Homo sapiens: one gene and its partners. The protein of the gene in region 6 purifies or fractionates together with the protein of the main gene of each other region. This does not show direct contact. Each region holds a gene or a part of one and is shown on either strand. Other genes may lie near its edges.

Region 1 (3,842 bases), on a different chromosome or scaffold from region 6:
GTCCCAACTACTTGGGAGGCTGAGACGAGAATTGCTTGAACCTGGGAGGCGGAGTTTGCAGTGAGCAGATATTGTGCCACTGCACTCCAGCCTGGGTGACAGAGTGAGACTCTGTTTCCAAAATAAATAAATAAATAAATAACCTTTGGTTCCTGGCCTAAGTTTTTTATTCTTTACCATTCTGTCCTTGAATAACGTGTTTAAGGGTTTTTAAACAATTTTTTATACTCATATAATGACTAGTTGACTTGCTGTAACCGTAAGTAGCAAACATCTAGCTTGTTCCAAATGAATTTAAAAGATACAACACATAAGTAAAATATTGGTATGTACAAACTATGTGCTTCTCATAATCTCACATTTACCTTTTTCAGGAATAGGATGAGTGATAATCCACCCAGAATGGAAGTGTGTCCTTACTGTAAGAAGCCATTTAAACGATTAAAATCCCACTTGCCATACTGTAAGATGATAGGACCAACCATACCTACTGATCAAAAAGTTTATCAGTCCAAGCCAGCTACACTCCCACGTGCTAAAAAGATGAAAGGACCAATCAAAGATTTAATTAAAGCTAAAGGGAAAGAGTTAGAGACAGAGAATGAAGAAAGAAATTCTAAGTTGGTGGTGGACAAACCAGAACAGACAGTGAAGACCTTTCCACTGCCAGCTGTTGGTTTGGAAAGAGCAGCTACTACAAAGGCAGATAAAGACATCAAGAATCCAATCCAACCATCCTTCAAAATGTTAAAAAATACTAAACCAATGACTACTTTCCAAGAAGAAACCAAGGCTCAGTTTTACGCATCAGAGAAAACCTCTCCTAAAAGAGAACTTGCCAAAGATTTGCCTAAATCAGGAGAAAGTCGATGTAATCCTTCAGAAGCTGGAGCGTCTTTACTGGTTGGCTCAATAGAACCTTCTTTGTCAAATCAAGATAGAAAATATTCCTCAACTCTACCTAATGATGTACAAACTACCTCTGGTGATCTCAAATTGGACAAAATTGATCCCCAAAGACAGGAACTTCTAGTAAAATTACTAGATGTGCCTACTGGTGATTGTCATATTTCTCCAAAGAATGTCAGTGATGGGGTTAAAAGGGTAAGAACATTATTAAGCAATGAGAGAGATTCCAAAGGCAGGGATCACCTCTCAGGAGTCCCTACTGATGTTACAGTTACTGAGACTCCAGAAAAGAACACAGAATCCCTCATTTTAAGCCTTAAAATGAGCTCATTAGGTAAAATCCAAGTCATGGAGAAACAAGAGAAAGGACTTACCCTGGGAGTAGAGACGTGTGGGAGCAAAGGAAATGCAGAGAAAAGTATGTCTGCAACAGAAAAGCAGGAACGGACTGTCATGAGCCATGGCTGTGAGAACTTCAACACCAGGGATTCAGTCACAGGAAAGGAGTCTCAAGGGGAAAGACCACATTTAAGTTTGTTCATTCCGAGGGAGACGACTTACCAGTTTCATTCTGTATCGCAGTCAAGTAGTCAAAGTCTTGCCTCTCTAGCTACAACATTTCTTCAAGAAAAGAAAGCAGAAGCCCAGAATCATCATTGTGTCCCTGATGTAAAGGCATTAATGGAGAGTCCCGAGGGACAGTTATCTCTGGAGCCCAAATCTGATAGTCAGTTCCAAGCATCACACACTGGGTGCCAGAGCCCTTTATGTTCAGCCCAGCGTCACACTCCTCAGAGCCCCTTCACCAATCATGCTGCAGCTGCTGGCAGGAAGACTCTTCGCAGCTGCATGGGGCTGGAGTGGTTTCCAGAGCTCTATCCTGGTTACCTTGGACTAGGGGTGTTGCCAGGGAAGCCTCAGTGTTGGAATGCAATGACCCAGAAGCCACAACTTATCAGTCCCCAGGGGGAAAGACTCTCACAAGGTAAACAAGCTTATTTTCAATTGCCATCTGTCCCATCCAAAATGCTCTCTCTGCCTTTTGAATTTATAAGGGTCAAAATACTAACATTTTCAGTCATTTAGTTTATTTTCACCTAGGCATGCCAGTAGACTGCATATAAAGTTGTCCTGAAAGAGGCTGGGTGTAGTGGCTCACACCTGTAATCTAAGCACTTTGGGAGGCTGAGGCCAAGGCAGGTGGATCACTTGAATTCAGGAGTTAAGACCAGCCTGGGCAACATGGTGAAACCCCATCTCTACTAAGGATACAAAAAATTAGCTGGGTGTGGTGGCGCACCTGTAGTCCCAGCTATTTGAGAGGCTAAAGTGGGAGATCACCTGATCCCGGAAAATCAGGGCTGCAGTGAGCCGAGTATGTGCCACTTCACTGCAGCCTGGGCGACGGGAATGAGACCCTGTCTCAAAAAAAAAAAATTGTCCTGAAAACATTACTTCTTGCTTCAGTGGTCAGTAGTGGTGGTTTATCCCTCTCTTTTTCTCTCCCCCAAGAGTTGAGGGTTACACTAGGGCAGGCTGGCGATACTGAAAGCAGTTGAGTTTCTGCCTTGAGAAGAGGCATGTCCAGTAGAAACTGGATGGGTAAACAGACTGGAGAAAAATATAAAGACTTGAAATTCAGCTAGATAGAATAAGCACTGTGTTCAGAATCCAGTCAGGACCAGGTTGTACAAGAAATAGGTTCTAAGTTTACAGGACAAGAAATAGGTTCTAGGTTTCAGGCAAATGCAACATCTAGGAATTTAGAGTAGCAAAGTAGGATGCAGGTGGTAGGACACAGGTAAAACTAGCCAGGTAAGACGGGCAGGCAAGGCAGATAAGTGGAAGTGGAGGCTCAGGAAATGAACAGTGAAGATCAAGGACCAGAAACGGAGGATGTGGCCAAAAACAAAAGAAAAAATGTAGGCCACAGAGACTAGGACCCAAGAATAAAACCAGTGATTGAGCCTGGAAACAGGAGAGATGAGGCGAGAAGGGCTTGGGGCGAAAGACTGAACGTTGAAACTCACCTTGATTATGAATCAAACTTCAGAAGCTTCCTAGAGGCTCCTTTTGCTGATGGCTGGAATCGGTTAACAGGAGGGAAGACCAAGGCCCAAGGAGCCAGGAAGTTCCTGACAGTCATTTGAAATATCTTTGCTTTTCTCTGCTGAATCTCATCTTTAGTTATGAGACCACCTCTCTAGTTAAAATACATAAAGTTTCTTAAGCTTTTCTAGGGGCAGGGTGATTGTAAAGTAGCATACCTGTCGTTTGTAAAGTAGCATACCTGTCGTGTGTAGTGGCCATTGGTGCTTTCATGCTTATTTTGACAGGAGACCTGTAACAACTCAGAATAGGTTTGCAAGAGAAAAACTGGTATTATCTCTTCCTAAAGGGAAATCATTTTCTTCTCTGGTAGATTTTGCAAATGATCTCATATTCACTAAACCTCTATTTGCCTGGTCTCAAAATGGATGTGTACTAAAAGCAGAACATTGCTAGCCCAAAGCTACATTTTCTTTAACTACCTTCTATAAACAGGCCTAACGTCTAGACCTTTTTGCACAAAGTTGTAGTCACAAAGTCAAGCCCCTTCTCCGTAATAAACACATTTAATTATATTAACATTTGTGTTGCTTTGTGGTTTTCAGAGTGCCTCCATCTGTATTTTTTTTATTTTGGGCACAAGGTGGACAGAGAGGTGGGCAGAGTGAATTTATCCTATTTTGTGGATGATGAAACAGGCACAGAGAGCATAAGTGATTTGTCCAAGTTTGTGTTGCCAATAAATAGTAGAGCTGCAAGGAGAACCTAGTTTCCTGAGGCCTAGTTTAATCTTTTCCACTAAACCATGTTGTAGAAAATACACCATAACTAAAACCATGTTTGTTATAGTGCCATACTTTTCTGTGTGTGTGTGTGTTTTGTTT
Region 2 (3,842 bases), on a different chromosome or scaffold from region 6:
TTTTTTTTTTTTTTTTGAGACAGAGTTTTGCTCTTGTCACCCAGGCTGGAGTGACAATGGTGCAATCTCGGCTCACTACAACCCTTTCTTCTGGGTTCAAACTATTCTCCTGCCTCAACCTCCCGAGTAGCTGGGATTACAGGCGACCGCCACACGCCCGGCTAATTTTTTGTATTTTTAGTAGCGATGGGGGTTTCACCAGGTTGGCCAGGCTGGTCTCGAACTCCTGACCTCAGACCTCAGGCAATCCACCCATTTCGTACTCGCAAGTGCTGGGATCACAGGTGTGAGCCACCGCGCCTGGCCACTGTTTTTTTTTTTTTTTTTTTTTTTTGAGACGGAGTCTCGCTCTGTCACTCAGGCTGGAGTGCAGTGGTGCCATCTTGGCTCACTGCAACCTCCGCCTTTGGGGTTCAAGCGATTCTCCCGCCTCAGCCTCCCAAGTAGTTTGGATTACGGCCATGCATCACTGCGCCCAGCTGATTTCTGTATTTTTAGTAGAGACAGGCTTTCACCATGTTGCCCAGGCTGGTCTCGAACTCCTGATCTCAGGTGATCCACCCGCCTCGGCCCCCCGAAGCGCTAGGATTACAGGCCTAGAAGTCTATCTTTTAAGGCAGGTTTCCTTAAAGTGTTCGGTGAACAGGTCGAGGCACCAATAGTTTTGTTAAATGTTGCCAAACTGCTCCTCAGAAAGGTTGTATCAGTTTGCATTCCCACCAGCAATGTATTAGAATGTCTGTTTCCTCATAGCCTTGCTTGAACCAGATACGTTGTCATACATTTTCATTTTCACCCATCTGATAGTCAAAAAGCGACACCCTTAAATCAAAGGGAAAAAAGTGGTATCTCTGGTTAACTTTGCATTTCTCTAATTACACGAGGCTGACCATCTCTTATGTTTAACCACCACCACCACACACACACACACACATACACCACACAAACACACACACACACAGTTCATTATCAAGTCTTCCCATTTTTTTCTTTTTCTTTTTTTGAAAGGGAGTCTCACTCTGTCGCCAGGCTGGAGTGCAGTGGCACAATCTCGGCTCACTACAACCTCTGCCTCCCAGTTTCAAGCAATTCTCCTGCCTCATCCTCCCGAATAGCTGGGACTAAAGGCATGCACCACCATACCCAGCTGATTTCTGCATTTTTAGTAAAGATGGGGTTTCACCATGTTGGCCAGGATGGTCTCAATCTCTTGACCTCATCATCCTCCCGCCTCAGCCTCCCAAAGTGCTGAGATTACAGGTGTGAGCCACCACACCTAGCCCAAGTCTTATCATTTTTCTATTGGGTTTGGTTCTTCATTCCTCAATTCAAGAGTTCTTCATGTATTACAGATATAGACCCTTTATCTCTGATATACATTGCAAATATGTTCTCTCAATTTGTCAGCTGTCTTTTGACTGTGGGATATTTTGTCAATATAGCAAGAGCTCTTATAAATTGAGATCAGGGGATGCCTGGGGTTTGCAAATCTGAAATGGTATGCAAGTGGTATGTCTGCTTTTCTGAAAGGTCTGCAGTGTTCAGATTTCCAAAGGGTCCTGTGACCTGAGAGTGATTAGGAGCTGTTGCTGCTGCCCCACATCTTCCACTGGCCTAACTGTGCCCCACAGGACCACTTCTGCTGAATGACCTCTAAATTGCTGAAGGCTTCTCTCACGTCTCTTGACTGTTCTCTTTCACAAGTTACACACCCAATGACCTGGCCTCCAGATGCATATTTTCAGGTTGTGTCATTAGTGTGAATACTTATCCATGAATGCATTCCTGGTTTTCTATACCTCTCACACACATGACAACAACAGGAAAGTATAATACTCTAGCTGTGGCCTAACCAGCACACAACAGAGCATGACCACCACTTCTCAGTCCAGATAACACATTTCCCTTAATGATATTAAGAGCAAATTGGCTTTTCCTGGAACAAAGTCAATTCTAATTGACCTGCTAAAACCTGCAGGTCTTCCGTTTCCCCTTTCCCCGTAAGTATTTCTGTTTCTTTTCAATTGTGGAGATCACTTTTTGAAACTGAGTACAAAATGTTAACATTTATATCAATTAAATTTCATTCTGCTTTATACAATTCAAAATGGAATATACACTGGTGGAGCTGGGAGGGAGAAAAGGAATGATTTTAAAAAAGAACAGGGTGGCGGGGCGCGGTGGCTTGCGCCTGTAATCCCAGCACTTTGGGAGGCCGAGGTGGGCGGATCACGAAGTCAGGAGATCGAGACCATCCTGGCTAACACGGTGAAACCCCGTCTCTACTAAAAAAATACAAAAATTTAGCCAGGCGTCATGGCGGGCGCCTGTAGTCCCAGCTACTAGGGAGGCTGAGGCAGGAGAATGGCATGAACCTGGGAGGTGGAGCTTGCAGTGAACTGAGATCGTGCCATTGCACTCCAGCCTGGGTGACAGAGCAAGAATCTGTCTCAAAAAAAAAAAAAAGAACACTGAGATAGTAATCTAGTTCTTAGGTTGATTGTTATGTAAGCATGTGTATGTATATGTATGCATATATAAACACATATATACATGTGTGTGTTCATTATACTTTATGTGTATTACGCATGCTTTTATATCAAACATTACATTAAAAAACTTTTCTCTCCTGAAGTGGCAGGTCCCTAAATTGGAAAAAAAAAAAAAAAGAAACTTTTCTTGTTAGACTCAGCCCACCACATCAAGAAGTAACACAATAGGAACTCTGGGATCCTTAGCCTTTTACCTATTTAACTGTATTTTTAAAAGATAGGGCATTGGCCGGGCGCAGTGGCTCACCCTGTAATCCCAGCACTTTGGGAAGCTGAGGTGGGCGGATCACCTGAGGTCGGGAGTTCGAGACCAGCCTGACCAACATGGTGAAACCCTGTCTCTATTTAAAAAATACCAAAAAATTAGCCGGGCATGGTGGCAGGCACCTGTAGTCCCAGCTACTCAGGAGGCTGAGGCAGGAGAATGGCGTGAACCCGGAAGGCGGAGCTTGCAGTGAGCTGAGATTGTGCCACTGCACTCCAGCCTGGGCAACAGAGCAAGACTCCATCTCAAAAAAAAAAAAAAAAATTAGCCAAGTGTGGTGGTGCATGCCTGTAGTCCCAGCTACTCAGGAGGCTGAGGCAGGAGAATGGCGTGAACCTGGGAGGCGGAGCTTGCAGTGAGCTGAGATTGCGCCACTGCACTCCAGCCTGGGCAATAGAACGAGACTCCATCTCAAAAAAAAAAAAAAAAAATTAGCCGGGTGTGGAGGCACATGCCTGTAATCCCAGCTACTCGGGAGGCTGAAGCAGGAGAATTGCTTGAACCCAGGAGGTGGAGGTTGCAGTGAGCTGAGATCGCACCATTGCACTCCAGCCTGGGCAATAAGAGCGAAACTCTGTCTCAAAAAAAAAAAAAAAAAGGCATCACAGTGTAAACTCAAATATCATGTTCAAATGTTACTTAATGCTTCATTCATTCCTAATCATAGTCACTGTATGAAGCCCACTAACAACAATTAACTGCCCTTTATCCTGTGTAAAGAAAAGATATATGTATCAAGAGCGGGATGGGAGCCTAGCCTAGGCAGCCCAAAGAACATATGAACCTGATGGTGGGTCTAGAGCAGGGGTTGGCAAACCACAGCCCTCAGGCCAGCAGCCTGTGCTAATAAAGTTTTATTGGAATACAGCCACATTCATTCATTTATGTATTGCCTCTGCCCACTTTATGCTACAATGGCAAAGCTGAGTTGTTCCAAAAGAGACCATATGAGGCCAGGCATGGTGGCTCCTGCCTGTAATCCCAACACGTTGGGAGGCTGAGGCAGGTGGGTCACAAGGTCAGGA
Region 3 (3,618 bases), on a different chromosome or scaffold from region 6:
ATTTTAAGAAAATTAAAATTATATCAAGCACTTTCTCAGACCACAGTGGAATAAAACTGGAAATCAACTCCAAAAGGAACCTTCAAAACCATGCAGATACATGGAATAACCTGCTCCTGGATGATCTTTGGGTCAAAGATGAAATCAAGATGGAAATGTAAAAATTCCTCAAACTGAATGACAATAGTGACACAACCTATCAACCTCTGGGATACAGCAAAGGTGGTGCTAAGAGGAAAGTTCATAGCCCTAAATGCCTACATCAAAAAGTTGGAAAGAGCACAGACAATCTAAGGTCACATCTCAAAGAACTAGAGAAACAAGAACAAACCCAGCAGAAGAAAGAAGATCAGAGCGGAATTAAATGAAATTGAAACAAAACAACAAAAAAATCCAAAAGATAAATGAAACAAAAAGCTGGTTCTTTGAAAAGATAAATAAAATTGATAGACCGTTAGCAAGATTAGCCAAGAAAAGAGAGAAAATCCAAATAAGCTCAATAAGAAATGAAACGGGAGATATTACAACTGACACCACAGAAATACAAAAGATATTCAAGGCTACCATGAACACCTTTACATGCATAAACTAGAAAACCTAAAATAGATGGATAAATTCCTGGAAAGATACAACCCTCCTAGCTTAAATCAGGAAGAATTACCCTGAACAGACCAGTAACAAGCAGGGAGATTGAAATGGTAATTAAAAAATTACCAACAAAAAAATGTCCAGGACTAGACGGATTCACAACAGAATTCCACCAGATATTCAAAGAAGAATTGGTACCAGTCTTAAAGACACTATTCCACAAGAGAGAGAAAGAAGGAATCCTCCCTAAATCATTCTATGAAGCCAGTATCACCCTAATACCAAAACCAGGAAAGGACATAACCAAAGAAGAAAACTACAGACCAATATCCTTGAACATAGATGCTAAAATCCTTAAGAAAATTCTAGCTAACTGATTCCAACAACATATCAAAAAGATAATCCACCATGATCAAGGGGTTTCATACCAGGGATGCAGGGATGGTTTAACATACACATGTGCGTAGCCAAAGCAAGACTAAGCAAAAAGAACAAATCTGAAGGCATCACATTACCTGATTTCAAACTTATACTATAAGGCCATAGTCACCAAAACAGCATGGTACGGTTATAAAAATAGGCACATGGACCAATGGAACAGAATAGAGAACCCAGAAATAAACCCAAATACTTACAGCCAACTGATCTTCAACAAAGCAAACAAAAACGTAAAGTGGAAAAAGGATACCCTTTTCAACAAATGGTGCTGGGATAATTGGCTAGCCACATGTAGGAGAATGAAACTGGATCCTCCTCTCTCACTGTATACAAAAATCAACCCAAGATAAATTAAAGACTTAAATCTAAGACCTGAAACTATAAAAATTCTAAAAGATACCATTGGAAAAATCATTCTAGACATTGGCTTAGGCAAGGATTTCATGAACCCAAAAGCAAATGCAATAAAAACAAAGATAAATAGCTGGGACTTAATTAAACTAAAGAACTTTTGCAGAGCAAAAGGAAAAGTCAGCAGAGTAAACAGACAACCCACAGAGAAGGAGAAAATCTTTCATAATATATACATCTGAAAAAGAACAAATATCCAGAATCTACAATGAACTCCAACAAATCAGCAAGAAAAGCAGTCCCATCAAAAAGTGGGCTAAGGACATGAATAGACAATTCTTAAAAGAAGATATACAAATGGCCAATAAACATATGGAAAAATGCTCAACATCACTAATGATCAGGGAAATGCAAATCAAAACCACAGTGCGATACCACCTTACTTCTGCAAGAATGGCCATAATAAAAAAATCAAAAAAATAGTAGATGTTGGCATGGATGTGGTGAACACGGAACACTTCTACACTGCTGGTGGGAATGTAAACTAGTACAACCACTATGGAAAACAGTGTGGAGATTCCTTAAAGAACTAAAAGTAGAACTACCATTTGGTCCAGCAATCCCACTACTAGATATCCACCCAGAGGAAAAGAAGTCATTATACAAAAAAGATACGTGCACACGCATGTTTATAGCAGCACAATTCGCAATTGCAAAAACGTGGAACCAACCCAAATGCCCATCAATCAATGCGTGGATAAAGTAACTGTGATATATATACATACAATGGAATACTCCTCAGCCATAAAAAGGAGTGAATTAATGGCATTCACAGTGACCTGGATAAGATTGGAGACTATTATTCTAAGTGAAAGAACTCAGGAATGGAAAACCAAACATCGCTATGTTCTCACTCATAAGTGGGAGCTAAGCTATGAGGATGCAAAGGCATAAGAATGACACAATAAACTTTGGGGACTCAGGGAGAAAGGGTGGGAAGGGGATGAGGAATAAAAGACAAAAATTGGGTGCAGTGTATACTGCTCAGGTGATGGGTGTACCAAAATCTCACAAATCACCACTAAAGAAGTTAACCAACACCACCTGTTCCCCAGTAACCTATGGAAAGAAAGAAATGTCTCATATGTTTCTGCCTAAATTGGTCTTTAATACTTTAGCGATTCTCTTGAGTTTGGATTATAAAATAGTTTTTGGTCTTTTTGTATTTTCTGCTGTAAGCCTGTATGATTATGTAATGGTGAGTAAAATTGCTAGGCCAGATACGCAGTTCTAGGAAGTTATGCAAAGATGTGCTTTAGTATATTATTTTCTACCTTTTTAAATTCATTTTGAGCTTGGCTTTTGAGCCTCTATTTTCCAAGGTGGGGTGTATGTTTTTATAATGTTATGCTTAGCCCTTGTGTATTTTCATCTCTGAGTTTGAAATTTGGGGTTATATTGGCAAAGGGAGGTTTGGGTTTTAATTAGGTGACCTGTTAGAGGAAATGTTAAGCTTCTGTTTCTTTAGGGTAGACAGTGAGAGATTTATCAAGATAAAGAAGAAAAATAAATCCTAAAGTTAATATTCAATACATGATGATGTCACCCTTACTAAAGCCAAAGAGGGCATTATCCTATCATTCTCATCGCTAAGAACTCTTCTCCTCTTGGCACATGCTTATTCAGTTAAAGATAAGCCAAGCCTTTCTTTTGTATTTTTTTTTTAAGAGAACAAATTTACTTTGGTTTTGAGTTTTATTCCTGGCTCTGGGTAGCTTATTTTTTTGACCCTTATTTTCCCCAATTTATAAAATGAAATAGTTATCTTCACTCCCCAGGATTGTTGTGAAGAGTAAGTCAAAAGATACAATGAGGTGACTCAGGCAAAAGTACCTGGCCCTGTGTAGTGAGTACATTGTATGTGTTACATATATTCTTATTCCTGAGAATCCACGAAAGAATGAATTAAATAATGAGGACCCTTTCATCAGGGTTTCTGAGTGAGTTTTTTAAAATACAAGGTAGTAGTTTGTGTAAATACTAAATCCATTGGTACCTGTGCAGAATGTAGGAAATGGAGTTGCTAATTCCAAAAAAACAGCACATATGCTGAGGAAAGTATAATACGTAATATATATGGTTTAAGCAATGTAAAATTCCATGAATATGTTCCTTTCATCTTAAAATTTGTGATTTAAAAAACATTGATATTACTATAAAGAATTATTATTATTTCCCTTG
Region 4 (4,500 bases), on a different chromosome or scaffold from region 6:
CCGAGTAGTTGGGATAACAGGTGCCCGCCACTATGCTGGGCTAATTTTTCTTTTTCTTTTTTTTCTTTTTGGAGACAGAGTCTCACTCTGTTGCCTAGGCTGGAGTGCAGTGGCGTGATCTCAGCTCACTGCAACCTCCGCCTCCCGGGTTCAAGCGATTCTCCTGCCTCAGCTTCCTGAGTAGCTGAAATTCCAGACGTGCACCACCACACCAGGCTAATTTTTGTATTTTTAGCAGAGACAGATTTCACTATGTTGGCCAGGCTGGTCTCAAATTCCCGGCCTCAAGTGGTCCGCCCACCTTGGCCTCCCAAGGTGCTGGGATTACAGGAATGAGCCACCGCACCCGGCTTAATTTTTCTATTTTTAGTAGAAATGGGGTTTCACTATGTCGGCCTGGCTGGTCTCCAACCCCTAGCCTCAGGTGATCTGCCCGCCTCAGCCTCCCAAAGTGCTGGGATTACAGGTGTGAGCTACTGCGTCCTGCCCAGCCAGCATTATTATTATTATTTTTGAGACGGAGTTTCGCTGTTGTTGCCTAGGCTGGAGTGCAATGGCGTGACCTCGGCTCACCGCAACTTCTGCCTCCCGGGTTTCTAGTGCCTCAGCCTCCTGAGTAGCTGGGATTACAGGCATGCACCACTAGGCCTGGCTAATTTTTGCTATTATTAGTAGGGACGGGGTTTCTCCATGTTGGTCAGGTTGGTCTCAAACTCCCGACCTCAGGTGATCTGCTAGCCTTGGCCTGCTGGGATTACAGGCGTGAGCCACCGCCCCGCCAGCATACATCAATTGTCAGTAAATTTCTTCTTCGCCTACTAGTTCCAATATCTTATTTAAAATCTATGGCCCGGTGAGGTGGCTCAGGCTTGTAATCCCAGCACTTTGGGAAGTCAAGGCGGGTGGATTGCCTGAGTTCAGGAGTTCAAGACCAGCCTGGGCAAAATGGCGAAACCCCGTCACTCCTAAAAATACAAAAAATTAGCAGGGCGTGGTAGCACACTCCTGTAATCCCAGCTACTCAGGAGGCTGAGGCAGGAGAATCACTTGAACCCGGGAGGCGGAGGTTGCAGTGAGGCGAGATGGGCCACTGCACTCCAGCTTGGGCGACAGAGTGAGACTCTGTCTCAAAATGAATGAATGAATGAATGAATGAATGAATAAAATCTACGAGGTCGGGCGCAGTGGCTCACTCTTGTAATCCCAGCACTTTGGGCGGGCGGATCATTTGAGGTCAGGAGTTTGAGACCGGCTTGGCCAACATGGTGAAACCCCATCTCTAAAAAAAATACAAAAATTAGCTGTACTGCTTGGGCGACAGAGCGAGACTCAGTCTCAAAAAAAAAAAATCTACAAATCCACTTCATCTTTCATTAAACACGAACCTGGGACGTAGTTAGAATGTCTTGAAGAAAATATTTCAGTAATATTCCAAGTCCGTCGCCCTGGCAAAGCAACAAGGCCACCTGACGGAGTAAGCCCGAGACCCCTGTGCCTCCACAGTACTGCCCGCGGGATCGCGGCGTGGGGAACCAGGAACTACAAGTCCCGGCAGGCCGCGCGCGCCTCGGCTTCACTAAGCGCAGTCAGGTGGCTGTCCCCGCACGGTTCCCAGCTAATTCCCCGCTACCGGGTTGCGGCCGGAAGCCGGGCGCCGCGGCTCTGCTTCCCTCGGGGTGAGTAGGGGCAGCTCGCCGGAGGCCGGCGCAGAGCTCGGGCCGACCAGCCTGGCAGGGCCGCACCGCGCCTGGAGCGCGAGGGAACCGGCATGGACACGCCGGGAGTCGGCCTCTGCTCCGGTTGTGCAGCCGCCCTGGGCGCCGGGAGGGACAGCCCCATGACCTTGTCACCTGGGCCCGGCGCGCGGCCACGTGGCTCGGGTGACTCGCATTGCCCCGCCCCCCTGCAGTGACTTCTCCAGTTTGGCACACCAGTGGGCTTTCATGTGACCTGTCCACTTCAGTGGCACAGTCTTGCAGGCACCCGAGTGGGCAGAGCTGGAGGAGGGCCGGAGGTGGCTCACCCAGACGCCTTCACCCCCTGGTGGCCCTGTGAGTTCCGAGGCAGAAGCAGCTGGAGCTGGAGCGTGGTCTGGGCAAGAGCAGGGGGCGATGCCCATATCCTGGCCCTCCACCCGGTCTTGCGAACGTGCCCCAGACCGCTGCTTATCTCCAGCATCTTGCAGGGCCCTGGGCTTCCAGATCACACAGTAGATATGTGCTAACAGCAGCCAGTGTGTGTGGAGAGCAACCTTTAGATAAGACACCTAGAACAGCCCTCTCCCAGGGTTAAGTGGCATTTACTTTCTACTAACAAGAAAGTCATTCAACAAGTATTTATTGTTTACCTCCATGATACTTGGCACTTAGTAGGTGCTCAAGAAATATTTGCAGAGTTGAAGTGAATTAGACTTTATCTGTGGCTTCATATGTTTTATTTAATAATTTTCTTGGGGCTGGATGTGGTGGCTGATGCCTGTAATCCCAGCACTTTGGGAGGCCAAGATGGGAGGATTGCTTGAGGGCAGGAGTTCAACACCAGGCTGGGCAACATAGTGAGACTCCCGTCTGTATTAAAAGAAAAAAAGGAAAATAAATAAAATAATTTTCTTACTACAGTGGTTCTCAAACTTTAGCATGCACCAGAGTCACCTGGAGAGCTAGTAACAACACACAGTACTGGACCCCATCCCCAAAGTTTCTGATTCTGTAAGTCTGGTATGAGGACCAAGAATTGGCGTTTCTAACATGCACCCAAGTGATGCAGTTGCTGTTGGTCTGGGGACCATACGTTGAGTACCACTGCTTTATAGGAAAAAAAATCCTGTGAACTTAAAGCACTATCTCTTCACACCTGGTTACGGGTCTTTCTGTCTTTATTTGCCAGTTTTACTTTTTTGGTGATTGTAAATATGTGCATATTACTTTGTACACTGTTAACTCCCTCCATATTAATTTATATACAGATTTTAATGTAGTCTATACTTGTCATTTTTCCTGGTTACATCATATTCTACCTTATTGGGTCATTCTTTGCTTGGCCATTTCTCAACTGGCCTCAGGGATGTGCGATTTGATCTGTACTAGAAGAGTGTGCATATTCTTACTTTCTGCTATGCAGTCATTTTCTTGTCAGACAAAGGACCTGTAAGAATATTAGTTGGGGCCGGGTGCGGTGGCTCACACCTGTAATCCCAGCACTTTGGGAGGCTGAGGTGGGCGAATCACTTGAGGTCAGGCGTTCAATGCCAGCCTGGCCAACATGGTGAAACCCCATCTCTACCAAAAATACAAAAAAATTACCTGGGCGTAGTGGTGTGTGCCTGTAGTCCCAGCTACTTGGGAGGCTGAGGAGGAGAACAGCTTGAACCCGGGAGACGGAGGCTGCAGTGAGCCGAGATCGTGTCACTGCACTCCAGCCTGGGCGACTGAGCAAGACTCCGTCTAAAAAAAAAAAATTTAGTTGGGTCAGCCATCCATTTCTTCACCAGGGTAACTCACTAAATATGCCTCCTGGGTTAAGGTTTCCATGTTGCAGGGACTCCAGTGGCCTATTTCAGGGCCCAGCAAGCTGCTTGTTCTTGTGCACTTTTTGCTCTCTTGGTGGGAGCAGTCATACATGGATTCAAGTTCTGCCTCCATCACTTACCAGCTCCTTGGCCAAGTTTTCTACCTTTTCTAAAACACCACTTCCTTATCCATAGATTGAAGCTCTAATAGCATGCACCTCGGAATCTGGTTGTGTGAGTTAATGAGCTAATAAGTGCTTGGTACTGTAGCTCTCCCGTTGGAAGCTCACTCTCTTCTCTTACCTGCTGCTTGCTCTTTGCATCTGGCTTTGCCCTATTCTCCCTCAGTCTGCCTTTCCTAGGATGGACTGAATGGAGGATTTCTATTCCTTGCCTGGGTGAGAATTATTTTTGTTGTCTATTCTGGGACCTTGGCATCAGTCAGGGATTCCTTTTTTTATTTTTTGAGACAGAGTGTTGCTCTGTCGCCCAGGCTGGAGTGCAGTGGCACGATCTTGGCTCACTGCAGCCTCTGCCTCTCGGGTTCCAGCAATTCTCTTGCTTCAGCCTCCCGGGATTCCTTTATTTAATCAACATTGATTTAAGGACCTTGAGTGCTTAGGCATCAAACACTAGGAAAGGGAGTTTGATTAAAATTTGGTTCCTAGCCGGGCGCGGTGGCTCACGCCTGTAATCCCAGCACTTTGGGAAGCCAAGGCGGGCGGATCACGAGGTCAGGAGATCGAGACCATCCTGGCTAACATGGTGAAACACCGTCTCTACTAAAAAAAATACAAAAAAATTAGCTGGGCGTGGTGCCGGGTGCCTGTAGTCCCAGCTACTCAGGAGGCTGAGGCAGGAGAATGGCTGGAACCCGGGAGGCGGAGCTTGCAGTGAGCCGAGATTGCGCCACTGCACTCCAGCCTGGGCGACAGAATGAGACTTCATCTCAAAATAAATAAATAAATACAATTTGGTTCCTGGACTACATT
Region 5 (3,842 bases), on a different chromosome or scaffold from region 6:
ATCCAAGCGATGTTTGAAGAAGGCAGCTGAACATGTGGGTTTGGGCTCAGATGGCAGGTCCAACCTGGGGAGGTGAGAAGACAAGTGAAGCCCAGTAGTGTCTTGGGAGTGGGCAAGCCAGCCAGGCTGAGGGTCACTGGAGAGAAGGGCCACTTCTGCAGCTCAGCTTCCAGGCCGCCATCTCCTCCATGTTCCCTTCTTTCTGGACCAGCTCTTCAGGTCCTGAACACCCCCGAGGTCCTTACACTCCGTAGACGACCATGCTGCTGTTTCCTCTCCCTTCCTCCCAGATCTGACAAACACCCTTTATCCTTCAAGAGCTAATGGAAGTGACTCCCCTTGGGGATGGCTTCCCAGCCTCTGCCACTCCTTCGTGCTACCATGGTGCCTAAAATCTTGCCTCTCCCCAGCACGCGCCATGCTTTGGCCATGTTTAGATCATGCTCATTTTCCTGAAGAGACGTGTCCAGTCTCTGCTAGCTGCCTTCACGTTCCCTTCATCTGTCTGGTGAGCCTCTGCGTTTTTCAGGCTTAGCTTTGACATTATCTATGCATGTGTTCATCAAATATTTACTGGACACCAGTGTCAGGCACTGAACAGAAGGCTGGAATTACACTAATGCTGCTCACACAGTTCACTAAGGGACACGATCACACTAAGGGAGCGGCACAGAGGCCCCAGGAATGGAGGGGCTCTGAAAAAGAGTTTGCGTGGGGACAGCTGGGGGTCGGTGTTCCAGGCAGATGGAAATGCAAAATTGAAGAGCTGGAAAGACACCTAGGGGCTTCAAAGTGTCGTTTGTGGCTGGGCACGGTGGTGCATGCCTGTGATCCCAGTGCTTTGGGAGGCTGAGGCAGGAGGATCACTGGAGGCCAGGAGTTTGAGACCAACCTGGGCAACATAGAGAAACCCTGTCTCTACAAAAACATTTTTTTTTTGAGACGGAGTCTCGCTCTGTCGCCCAGGCTGGAGTGCAGTGGCGCGATCTCGGCTCACTGCAAGCTCCGCCTCCCAGGTTCATGCCATTCTCCTGCCTCAGCCTCCCGAGTAGCTGGGACTACAGGCGCCCGCCACCACGCCCAGCTAATTTTTTGTATTTTTAGTAGAGACGAGGTTTCACCGTGTTAGCCAGGATGGTCTCGATCTCCTGACCTCATGATCTGCCCGCCTCGGCCTCCCAAAGTGCTGGGATTACAGGTGTGAGCCACCGCACCCGGCCTTTTTTTTTTTTTTTTTTTTAAAGTGTCATTTGCTGAGAAGGAATACAGGAGATGAGCCAGCGTTGGGGAAGATGTTGGGTAAAGTATGGAAGTAAAGTGTTTGGGGACATTTGAATGTACTCTGTGGACAGCTATGAATGCAGCCCCAGAGCTAAGGAGAGAGAGCTGGTCGGGTTGGGTTTGGGGCTCATTGGCTTATGGTTGGCAGCTTGGGCATGGGATGAAGGAATGTGCATGGCGGGGGGTGGAGCGCCTGGCGCACTGACGTTTAAGGGGTGACAGAGGAGCTGGGGCTCCGGGAGGCTGAGGGGAGCAGAGGAAGGATGGCGACTCACCTGTAACTGTTTCCTGAGTTCTCTGCTCAGAGGATGGAGACCTCAGCATTTTATCTCTGCCTTTCCTACCCCTGAGGTTCCCTTTTCTTCTCTGTGTCGGGGATCTTCCTGCTGGAGTCTGTCAGCCTCTGGCGCCTTGTGGAGGGAGCCGCTGTGCTGCCCTGGTTGTTTGTAGACAGTGTGCCCTGGGGGCCTTCCACTTCCAAAACAGGTTTTTGTTATAGGAAGTAGGGGGAAACACAGAGACCTGTCTCTGCCCCGAAATACCAGGGACAACCGGTGAGCCCACAGCATAGCTAGAGCTGCCCGTCTCGGGAGGTGCTGGGCAGAGACCAAAGATGGGTGGGGCTGCCCTGGAAGAAGCGAGTGCAGACTGGGCCTTGGATTCCCCCTGTCTTTGTGTTGTTTCTTGCAGCTGGATCAGATCTGCATTTCTTTTGACGAAGGCAAGACCACAATGAACTTCATTGAGGCAGCGTTGTTGATCCAGGGCTCTGCCTGCGTCTACAGTAAGAAGGTGGGCCCTGCTTGACGCTGGTCTTGGCATTTTGGTGGCCAGTGGGACCACAGTCGGCTCTCCTTCTGGGGCAGGTGCAGTGGTCGTCCCGTCTGTGACCTACCTCCCTCTCTCCTCAGGTCTCAGCCAATTCCTCAGCACCTTCCAACACCAAGAACAATTTTTAATTTAAAATCGCACAGCCAGGCAGGGAGGGTCTTTTGTGCTGTTGGGCTCTGTTGTCTTGGGGGAATGACACCTGCTGTGTGCACTTGGACACAGCCCAGGGTGCCACCTGCACCCACCTTCCCCTTCCCCGTCCCCTACTTGTGGGTGCCTCATTGTCAGCACCTAGAAAGTCCACAACCACCACCCTCACGGTGGGGCCTCTGTTCTGTGGAGGAGAAGGACAGGAAGTGAGTGACGGGCTCTGTCCTGCAGGCCCCGTGGCGGCAGGAGCTGGGACAGGGCAGGGCCAGGACAGGAGGAGGGGCTGGGGTGATGCTGGCGGGAGCACACGGGCGGAGGAGCAGCAGGGCTGCAGGCCGTCGGCAGAGTGGGTGCCAAGCACGAGGGGCCTCACCACCAAGGACCGTGTGATGAGGCACACTGTGGGAACCACAGTGCTGTCAGGGTCACACGTTGAGAAGGCCACGCTCGCGGCTGCGTGGACCATAGAGGGCAGAGGAGAGATGTGGGTGGCCTCAGCTGGTAAAGTAATTCTCATGAGATTCCTGGTTTGATTTGAGAATTATTTTTGGAACCAAAATTGGTGGTTTCTTGTACTGGAGGTTTGGTGGTGGTGGCCAGGCCTCGTGGGGGCACCGATGGATAGCTGGGAAGGCCTTGGGGGTGGGCCCCTCCTTTCTGGGTCCTCACTGCCTGCATCTGGTCACCAGGTGGAATACCTCTACTCACTCGTCTACCAGGCCCTTGATTTCATCTCTGGAAAGAGGTGAGTTCTGCAGCCACTCACTGTGCTGCCCTGCATGTGGCCAGGGAGGCCCCTGCAGCTCCTGGGATGCCCACGGGATGTGCTTCTCTCTCAGGCGGGCCAAGCAGCTCTCTTCGGTGCAGGAGGACAGGGCCAATGGGGTTGCCAGCTCCGGGGTCCCCCAGGAGGCAGAGAATGAGGTGAGTTTCTTTGGCATGTGGTCCCCGCCCACTGTGTGTTTGCCTGGGCTCCGCCCCCACGAGCTCTGTCTCCCTCCAGTTCCTGTCGCTGGATGACTTCCCTGACTCCCGGACTAACGTGGATCTCAAGAATGATCAGACGCCCAGTGTGAGTCCTGGCCTGGCCCCTCTTAGGCTGGGGTGAGGTCAGCACTTTCCCTGGGGCTGTGTTGAGCTGATGGGGTGTGGGAAGGTGTCATTGCCCCATGTGGGTCCTGTTCTCCACTGGAGTGGAAGGGTGCCTGGCTCACCCACCCTTGGCCTCCATGCAGGAGGTCCTCATCATCCCCCTCCTGCCCATGGCCCTGGTGGCCCCTGATGAAATGGAGAAGAACAACAATCCCCTGTACAGGTAGGGATCTGAGCCCAGCGACGGGGAGGGAGGCCTGCCTGGGAAGGGTCTCTACAGCAGGCGTGTTTTTGCCAGCACAGCCGTCAGGGTGAGGTCCTGGCCAGCCGGAAGGATTTCAGGATGAACACGTGCGTTCCCCACCCCAGAGGGGCCTTCATGTTGGAGCCAGAGGGCATGTCCCCCATGGAACCAGCGGGCGTTTCCCCCATGCCAGGGACCCAGAAGGGTGAGGGCTTGGATGCGGGGGGCTTGGTGGGAAGGAAGG
Region 6 (4,303 bases):
AAGCAGACCTGCAACTGATTATTATCTCATTCCTTCCCGCGGTTTTATAGATGTAGATTTGGCTTATTTCTTCATGCACATACACCGAAGATGGATTCTGTCACCATAATCTCATCTCCTCAATCTGCAATTCAGTTGTTAGTGTCTTCTTCTTGCACATCTTCATCTGCCACCCCATGGGATGTAGCTCTCCATTCATAATCTAAAGGTTAGAAAGTTGCATCCATAAGACTTAGCCTCCCTGTTAGGAGCCCACACCAGGGACCCCTGGCCCATTGCCTTCTCTCTCTGCAACCTCGGAGAGACCTAAAAGTGGGCGAGGTGCAGTCAGAGCCTGGATGGGCACTTGCTTCTGTGAATGCCCACCTGCCCACTCTCTCACACTTTGGGCTTTCTGGGTACACCTTAGACAAAAGGGTCTCCTTGCCCTTTCTCATGCATCTTTTCTGGACTCCACTTCTTACCTGCTGTAACCACAGTGCTCATTTAACCCTTGCAACTTAGACCTTCATCTCCTCCCCATGGGGCTTGAGGTATCTACCTGGCCCAGTCCCACTAGCCAGAGGCCAATCTTTCTCTCTCTTTGCTGCTTCGGGACCGCCTTGCTTTCATTTGTCCGAGAAGATCACGTCTCAGAAAAGTTAAACTGGATTCAAGACGATGTCTCCTAGCCAGCCTCGGGTCCTGACATTGTTGTTAGTCTACTGCGAATGAACTGTCCTCCTCATATTCTCCAATCCCCAACCAGGCCTGGAGGTCAACTATCTGCACATCCCCACACCCACCCCTGAATGTCCAGCGAGCACAGAGAAGTGGACTACACGATTCACTTGCAAAGACTTCACCTTCTGTTTGGATGGACAAAATAGCGCACTCGAAACAACAGAGCCCAAAGCTGTGTCCAATCACGTTCCTGTGTGTGTCCCAGATGCGGCCCCAGGAGGAAAACAAGTGTTTGCGGAATTTGGTGGCCAAAGGCCCTTGGGCCTGGCTTTATTCTCACCACCACCCCACTTTCTCTCAGGGCATCCCCTGACCCCGGCCCGCAAAATCCATCAACCAGAACCTCGGGGTAGGCCCTGGGTTCGTGCCTCGGCTCCTGAAACCCAAGCCGGGGTTCTCCAGGAGAGAGCCCCGGGAGCGGGGCTTGGCACGGGCGGGAGGAGGGGGGCGGCGACGGCGGCCCCAGATCCCCGAGGGAGCGCCCCGGCACGGCCGGAGCAGGGGCGGGGAGGCGCGGGGCGCAGCCAATCCCCGGGCCGCCCCCTCCCCGGCCGCGGCGAGCCGAGCCGGGGCGGGGGAGCCAGGCGGCGGCGGCGGCGGCGGCGGCGGCGGCGACGGAGCTGCCGTGGGGAGGGATGGAGAGGGGAGGGGGGAGCGGAGCCGAGCGGAGACAGCCGCGGCGCTGCAGAGCGGCTGGGGCGGCGGCGCGGCTCCCGGTGCTCCCCCCGGCGCGCGCCCCGAGTCGGTGAGGGCCCGGCTCTGCGGCCCCCGGAGCCATGGGCTGCATCGGCTCCCGGACTGTGGGTGGGTACCGCGGCCGGGCGGGGGCAGGGCTGGGCCCCCCGGGCCGCCCTCCGACCCCCTCCCCCATCCCTCTCCTCGCGCCTCCGGGCGCCCCGCTCCGCACCCGCCTTGCCCTGCTAGCTCCTTCACTTTCCTTCCGTCCGCCCGCGGTCCCTCTGTCCCTCCTTCCTGCCCGCTCTCGTCTTGCGCCTCCGGGGCTGCCATCCCGCTCGGCTCGCTTCCTTCTCCCCGTCGCCCTCCCGCAGGCGCGGTCCTCTCCATCCTCTCCATCGCCCTCCTCTCCTCTGCCTCTCGGCCCGACGCTCGGTCCCCTCATCCCTGCCCCTCCAGGCCATCCGCCTCTGCTCCGCCGTCCCCAGCGCCTCCTCGCATCCCCCACTCCGGAGCAGCCCCCCGCGAAGGACCCTCGGCCTCCGCGCCAGCCCCGAGTTTCTTTCGCACGCCCCCCACGCCACCCCCCGCCGCCGCCTCCATCTGGCTCGGGTGCTTTGCCCCATCTCTCTCTCCCTCTCCGTTGCCTTTTACTGTCGTTCCTGCCTCCTCCGATTCGCTTTGTTCACGTGCGTTTTCCCTCTGGGGCGGGGGCGGGATGAGCCCGGGTTCCACGCCCGGAGGGACAGGGCCAGGGCCGGGTGGAGGGAAGGGGCTGGGGGACGCGGGGAGGAGATGGGGGCTTCGAGGCGCTGGGAGGGGTCGGGAGCCCGCGGCCCGGGAGGGTGGGGCCGGCCCTGCCTCGGCGGCCGGGGACCCGCCTGCACCTGTCAGCGGGGGCCGGCGGGGCGGGGCCGGCTCTTTATTTACCTTTGACGCGGGGAGGGAAGAGAGGCGCCTCCTAATCCATCTTCTCCCTCCAGCTTCTGCCTGGCTACCGCCCCTGACCCCCACCCAGGCACCCACTCCACTCTCGCCGCTCAGCGAATTCATCCGGCCCTCTCCCACCCCCTCCCCCATTCTTCCCCTTTCCAACTCCCAATTTCTCCCGCCTACACCTCCCGGTGACCTCAGGCTGAGAGAATAATTCGTATTATTATTACAAACAAACTCACTCTCCAGAAGCCTGATTTCCCTGAGACCCGGTTTATTTCCATGGATACCCCCTCCTCCTCTGCTTTCACCCCTTCTCCGCGGCTCTCTCCCTCCCCGCTGCCCCCCACAGCTCTGACTCAGCTCTCCGTCTCTCACAAAGGCCACCTCCCGCTCCCCTCTCCCCCCGCACCCCGCCCTCCCCTGTCTCCCTTCTCCTCAGGCTCTTCTCCACCTGCCCCATTCCTGCTGTGTCCGGAGGGCCATCTTTCCTCTTTTCCCCCAGTCACCACCCCGCGGAGCCCCAGGGGACAGCAGGCCAACTTTGGAGGGTCCTCCCTCCTCAGTCCGGTTCACCACAAGCCCCTTCCTTTCCCCCAGCCCTGCTGATGTGCTGAATGCCTCCTCGTGCCCAGCCCCATTCAATGCTCCCCTTCCCAAAAATGGAGCCGACCCCTAAACTCACAATTGTAAAACCTCATGAGTATAAAGGGCCTGTACGGTCAGATGGTTCAGGCAGCCATCTGCTGCTTGAATAGTCCCTTTATGAAGACCCAAGCAGTTCTTCCGCAAGACTCTCCGCGGCACCATCCTGCCCTCAGTCCAGGAGTCTCCCTCCACCAGGAGCTCTGGCCCGGCTGTAACAAGGACCCTCCTTCCCCTGAGTCCTGCAGTTTCCCACTCAGCCCTCAGACCCTGTCCACCCCTCCCACCATCTTCTGTCTTCTCTCTGACTTGAATTCCTATTTTCTTAATTCCTATTTTAAAAAGTTCTCTTTTCTCCTCCTGCTCACCAGCTTCCCTCCACTTTAATCCATCACTTCTCTCCCCACAGTCAGGTGAAATGCCTCCAGCTCACCCTTGGTTTCTCTGCTCACTGTTTTTGGGAGGACACACCCAACTCCTTGCTATCCAACTCCTGCCTCGATTCCCAGGAAGTCCTCTTCCAGTCAGTCAGACTCATGGACTCTTAGGAAGGGCCCACCGGGGGAGACACATCCCTTCCACCCTAAGCATAGAGAAAAGTTCCTCATAGAGCAGCTCTGCCCTTATCTGTAGACTTGTAATAGAGAAAAAGCCCAGCTCCCATACAGAAACCCTCCAAGAGTCCTCAGGACGGAATAATTGGTTTTCTGATAAAACCCAACCTCTGACCCCTCCACATAAACAACAACAAATAAGGCCATACATCACTTTTTCTGAGTGCACTATTCTGGGTTGAGCTAAAACTGAATATTTGGGCTCAGCATTACTACTTGTCTCCCCTAGAATTTGGAGAGTGCAGGGATATAAGAGGAAATGGGCAGCTGGGGTAAGGAAGGGGTGTGAAGGGCTGGCCCCAGGGTGTCGCCTCGGCTGCACAGGGAGGTGAGGGCCGGCGGCTAACCTTCTGGCCCCCTCAGGGAATGAGGTGATTGCAGTGGATTGGAAGGGCCTGAAGGATGTCGATCAAATCAACATGGACAGCACCAGCTCACTGCACGGGAGCAGCCTCCATCGGCCATCGACTGAGGTGAGACCTCACTCAGCCACCCCAAGTCTCTGGCTGCCTGCACTTCCTCAATTCCAAGGCAACAACCCAAACACTCCTTCAGACTGACACTTCTACAGAACATTTCTCACAACACATGCCAAGCAGTCCACATGGAGAACCCAGTTAGCGGCATCAACCTCAGGAAAGCCCTCCCCACATCCCGCACTCCTGGAAGGCCCTCTGAGGAAGGGGGCTTCCTTGCATTCCTGCGAGTGACTG
Region 7 (3,842 bases), on a different chromosome or scaffold from region 6:
CCAAATTTGGGAAGATCTTTCCATATTCTAGCAATAGCGACCAAAGATGTGAGAATTTTTACATTAAAGCCTGTGAGGTGAGTTTTAGAAGCATTTATGAATTTGAAAATACTCTTGCCTTCTGATTACCTTTGTTTGTGGAGGAGAGAGTAGAGGTAACTATGATTTGGTTTATATTTCTGCTCTGGAAGTTTTACTTAAAAATGTAAACTTTGAAATGTTTTTTAAAAATGGTCTTTTACAGTTACTTTTTTTTCTTTCTTTTTTTTTTTATTGATCATTCTTGGGTGTTTCTCCCAGAGGGGGATTTGGCAGGGTCATAGGACAATAGTGGAGGGAAGGTCAGCAGATAAACAAGTGAACAAAGGTCTCTGGTTTTCCTAGGCAGAGGACCCTGCGGCCTTCTGCAGTGTTTGTGTCCCTGGGTACTTGAGATTAGGGAGTGGCGATGACTCTTAACGAGCATGCTGCCTTCAAGCATCTGTTTAACAAAGCACATCTTGCACCACCCTTAATCCATTCAACCCTGAGTGGACACAGCACATGTTTCAGAGAGCACAGGGTTGGGGGTAAGGTCACAGATCAACAGGATCCCAAGGCAGAAGAATTTTTCTTAGTATAGAACAAAATGAAAAGTCTCCCATGTCTACTTCTTTCTACACAGACACGGCAACCATCCGATTTCTCAATCTTTTCCCCACCTTTCCCCGCTTTCTATTCCACAAAACCACCATTGTCATCATGGCCTGTTCTCAATGAGCTGTTGAGTACACCTCCCAGACGGGGTGGTGGCTGGGCAGAGGGGCTCCTCACTTCCCAGTAGGGGCGGCCGGGCAGAGGCGCCCCTCACCTCCCGGACGGGGTGGCTGGCTGGGCGGGGGGCTGACCCCCCCACCTCCCTCCCGGACGGGGCGGCTGGCCGGGCGGGGGGCTGACCCCCCCACCTCCCTCCCGGACGGGGCGGCTGTCCGGGCAGAGGGGCTCCTCACTTCCCAGTAGGGGCGGCCGGGCAGAGGCACCCCTCACCTCCCGAATGGGGCGGCTGGCCGGGCGGGGGGCTGACCCCCCCACCTCCTTCGCGGACGGGGCGGCTGGCCGGGCAGAGGGGCTCCTCACTTCCCAGTAGGGGCGGCCGGGCAGAGGTGCCCCTCACCTCCCGGACGGGGCGGCTGGCCGGGCGCGGGGCTGACCCCCCCACCTCCCTCCCGGACGGGCGGCTGACCCCCCCACCTCCCTCCTGGACGGGGCGGCTGGCCGGGCGGGGGGCTGACCCCCCCCCACCTCCCTCCCGGACAGGGCGGCTGTCCGGGCAGAGGGGCTCCTCACTTCCCAGTAGGGGCGGCCGGGCAGAGGCACCCCTCACCTCCCGGATGGGGCGGCTGGCCGGGCGGGGGGCTGACCCCCCCACCTCCCTCCCGGACGGGGCGGCTGGCCCCCCCACCTCCCTCCCGGTCGGGGCGGCTGGCCGGGCAGAGGGGCTCCTCACTTCCCAGTAGGGGCGGCCGGGCAGAGGCGCCCCTCACCTCCCGGACAGGGCGGCTGGCAGGGCGGGGGGCTGACCCCCCCACCTCCCTCCCGGACGGGGCGGCTGGCCGGGCGGGGGGCTGACCCCCCAACCTCCCTCCCGGACGGGGCGGCTGGCCGGGCGGGGGGCTGATCCCCCAACCTCCCTCCCGGACGGGGCGGCTGGCCGGGCGGGGGGCTGACCCCCCCACCTCCCTCCCGGACGGGGCGGCTGGCCGGGCGGGGGGCTGACCCCCCCACCTCCCTCCCGGACGGGGCAGCTGGCCGGGCAGAGGGGCTCCTCTCTTCCCAGTAGGGGCGGCCGGGCAGAGGCGCCCCTCACCTCCCAGACAGGGTGGCTGGCAGGGCGGGGGGCTGACACCCCCCACTTCCCTCCCGGACGGGGCGGCTGGCCGGGCAGAGGGGCTCCTCACTTCCCAGTAGGGGCGGCCGGGCAGAGGCGCCCCTCACCTCCCGGACGGGGCGGCTGGCCGGGCGGGGGGCTGACCCCCCCACTTCCCTTCCGGACGGGGCGGCTGGCCGGGCGGGGGGCTGACCCCCCCCACCTCCCTTCCGGACGGGGCGGCTGGCCGGGCGGGGGGCTGACCCCCACCTCCCTCCCGGACGGGGTGGCTGCCGGGCGGAGATGCTCCTCACTTCCCAGACGGGGTGGCTGCCGGGCGGAGGGGCTCCTCACTTCTCAGACGGTGTGGCTGCCGGGCGGAGGGGCTTCTCACTTCTCAGACGGGGCGGTTGCCAGGCAGAGGGTCTCCTCACTTCTCAGACAGGGCGGCCGGGCAGAGATGCTCCCCACATCTCAGATGATGGGCGGCCGGGCAGAGACGCTCCTCACTTCCTAGATGGGATGGCGGCCGGGCAGAGACGCTCCTCACTTTCCAGACTGGGCAGCCAGGCAGAGAGGCTCCTCACATCCCAGACGATGGGTGGCCAGGCAGAGACGCTCCTCACTTCCCAGACGGGGTGGCGGCCGGGCAGAGGCTGCAATCTCGGCACTTTGGGGGGCCAAGGCAGGCAGCTGGGAGGTGGAGGTTGTAGCGAGCCGAGATCACGCCACTGCACTCCAGCCTGGGCACCATTGAGCACTGAGTGAATGCAACTCCGTCTGCCATCCCGGCACCTCGGGAGGCCGAGGCTGGCGGATCACTCGCGGTTAGGAGCTGGAGACCAGCCCGGCCAACACCTACAGTTACTTTTAAATTAATGTCATTTTTGAAGAATGGATTATTTAATGAACATTTTATATATAAATATATGTCTTTTTGGAAAGGGGAATTGAGTCAAGAGCAGATTTATATTCTCTTAACTGTGCTTTATTTAGGCTGAAACTAACAATTCTCCAAATATAACTGATAATCTATAAATATTTAATGACAAGTGGCAGTCTATTTAGGGAAAACTAAATTAGTATTGAGACAGTCTTGTGAATAACATATTTAACTTTAATTTTGAATTGTGAATTTCAGTTCTTTTCTTTCCATTCTTTCATTCTTTCCTACTTGCTGCCCTGCCCATTTTTTTTTTTTTTTTTTTTTTTTTTTGAGGCAAGGTCTCACTCCGTTGCCCAGGCTGGAGGGCAGTGGCTTGATCTTGGCTCACTGCAACCTCCACCTCCCAGGTTCAAGCAATTCTCATGCCTCAGCCTCCTGAGTAGCTGGGACTACAGGCGCCCGCCACCATGCCTGGCTAATTTTTTATTTTGTATTTTTAGTAGGGATGGGGTTTCGCCATGTTGGCCAGGCTGGTCTTGAACTCCTGGCCTCAAGTGATCTGTCCACCTTGGCCTCCCAAAGTGCTGCGATTACAGGTGTGAGCAACTGCACCTGGCCTTGCCCTGCCTTTTTAAATTAATTATTGTCATCTATTTTATTCTTCTGCCTTGTGTGGGAGAATAAAATCATCCTGTTTTGTTGTTTCTTTCTTCCATGAAACAGTCACTGAGTATCATTTATGTGCTGGGATCACTCCAGGTCTTGGCGAGTTAAATGAAAATGACATTGGCCCAGCTCAAGGGCCAAGGTGTGGGGTTTGGGCAGATGTGCACATTATTATAAAGTGATGTGGTGGCGAGACCACTTGTATTAATTTAGAATTTTACGTGTGTATATATATATGTGTGTGTATATATATATGTTTTAAAACTTTGTTTGGAATGCCTCAGAAAATGTTTTTTATTAACAGGAAAGAACTGACTTCCTCTGGTGGGCCAACAAAGTTTGAAATCCATATAGTGGCTCAGTTCGATAATCATAATTCTCAGGTCTGGCGAGTGAGTTGGAATATAACAGGAACGGTGCTAGCATCTTCAGGAGATGATGGGT

What was found.
Region 1: the proteins of FAM131B (region 6) and MTNAP1 purify together in Homo sapiens (affinity purification with mass spectrometry; 2 studies listed by BioGRID and IntAct, with this or other methods). This does not show direct contact.
Region 2: the proteins of FAM131B (region 6) and PRR14L purify together in Homo sapiens (affinity purification with mass spectrometry; one large-scale study listed by BioGRID and IntAct). This does not show direct contact.
Region 3: the proteins of FAM131B (region 6) and ZNG1C purify together in Homo sapiens (affinity purification with mass spectrometry; 2 studies listed by BioGRID and IntAct, with this or other methods). This does not show direct contact.
Region 4: the proteins of FAM131B (region 6) and ADCK1 purify together in Homo sapiens (affinity purification with mass spectrometry; 2 studies listed by BioGRID and IntAct, with this or other methods). This does not show direct contact.
Region 5: the proteins of FAM131B (region 6) and NCAPH2 purify together in Homo sapiens (affinity purification with mass spectrometry; 2 studies listed by BioGRID and IntAct, with this or other methods). This does not show direct contact.
Region 7: the proteins of FAM131B (region 6) and SEH1L purify together in Homo sapiens (affinity purification with mass spectrometry; one large-scale study listed by BioGRID and IntAct). This does not show direct contact.

The regions. Positions count from the first base shown.
Region 1 is NC_000017.11:73,235,102-73,238,943, forward strand, and holds part of MTNAP1 (mitochondrial nucleoid-associated protein 1), read left to right. Parts: intron 1-374; 5' UTR 375-381; coding exon 382-1,894; coding exon of another isoform or gene 1,895-1,995; exon of another isoform or gene 1,996-3,537; intron 3,538-3,842. UniProt on the Homo sapiens protein: Critical regulator of mitochondrial DNA (mtDNA) abundance. Binds dsDNA throughout the mitochondrial genome without sequence specificity and controls mtDNA copy number by promoting its replication.
Region 2 is NC_000022.11:31,732,989-31,736,830, forward strand, and holds part of PRR14L (protein PRR14L), read right to left. Parts: intron 1-3,842.
Region 3 is NC_000009.12:68,293,954-68,297,571, forward strand, and holds part of ZNG1C (zinc-regulated GTPase metalloprotein activator 1C), read left to right. Parts: intron 1-3,618.
Region 4 is NC_000014.9:77,798,495-77,802,994, forward strand, and holds the start of ADCK1 (aarF domain-containing protein kinase 1), read left to right. Parts: upstream 1-1,614; 5' UTR 1,615-1,676; intron 1,677-4,500. UniProt on the Homo sapiens protein: Appears to be essential for maintaining mitochondrial cristae formation and mitochondrial function by acting via YME1L1 in a kinase-independent manner to regulate essential mitochondrial structural proteins OPA1 and IMMT.
Region 5 is NC_000022.11:50,514,476-50,518,317, forward strand, and holds part of NCAPH2 (condensin-2 complex subunit H2), read left to right. Parts: intron 1-1,244; exon of another isoform or gene 1,245-1,272; coding exon of another isoform or gene 1,273-1,299; intron 1,300-1,971; coding exon 1,972-2,073; intron 2,074-2,951; coding exon 2,952-3,007; intron 3,008-3,101; coding exon 3,102-3,186; intron 3,187-3,265; coding exon 3,266-3,334; intron 3,335-3,497; coding exon 3,498-3,577; intron 3,578-3,652; exon of another isoform or gene 3,653-3,657; coding exon 3,658-3,803; intron 3,804-3,842. UniProt on the Homo sapiens protein: Regulatory subunit of the condensin-2 complex, a complex that seems to provide chromosomes with an additional level of organization and rigidity and in establishing mitotic chromosome architecture.
Region 6 is NC_000007.14:143,359,800-143,364,102, reverse strand, and holds the start of FAM131B (protein FAM131B), read left to right. Parts: upstream 1-1,389; 5' UTR 1,390-1,499; coding exon 1,500-1,527; intron 1,528-2,022; exon of another isoform or gene 2,023-2,397; intron 2,398-3,953; coding exon 3,954-4,063; intron 4,064-4,303.
Region 7 is NC_000018.10:12,978,816-12,982,657, forward strand, and holds part of SEH1L (nucleoporin SEH1), read left to right. Parts: coding exon 1-77; exon of another isoform or gene 78-78; intron 79-3,702; coding exon 3,703-3,842. UniProt on the Homo sapiens protein: Component of the Nup107-160 subcomplex of the nuclear pore complex (NPC). The Nup107-160 subcomplex is required for the assembly of a functional NPC.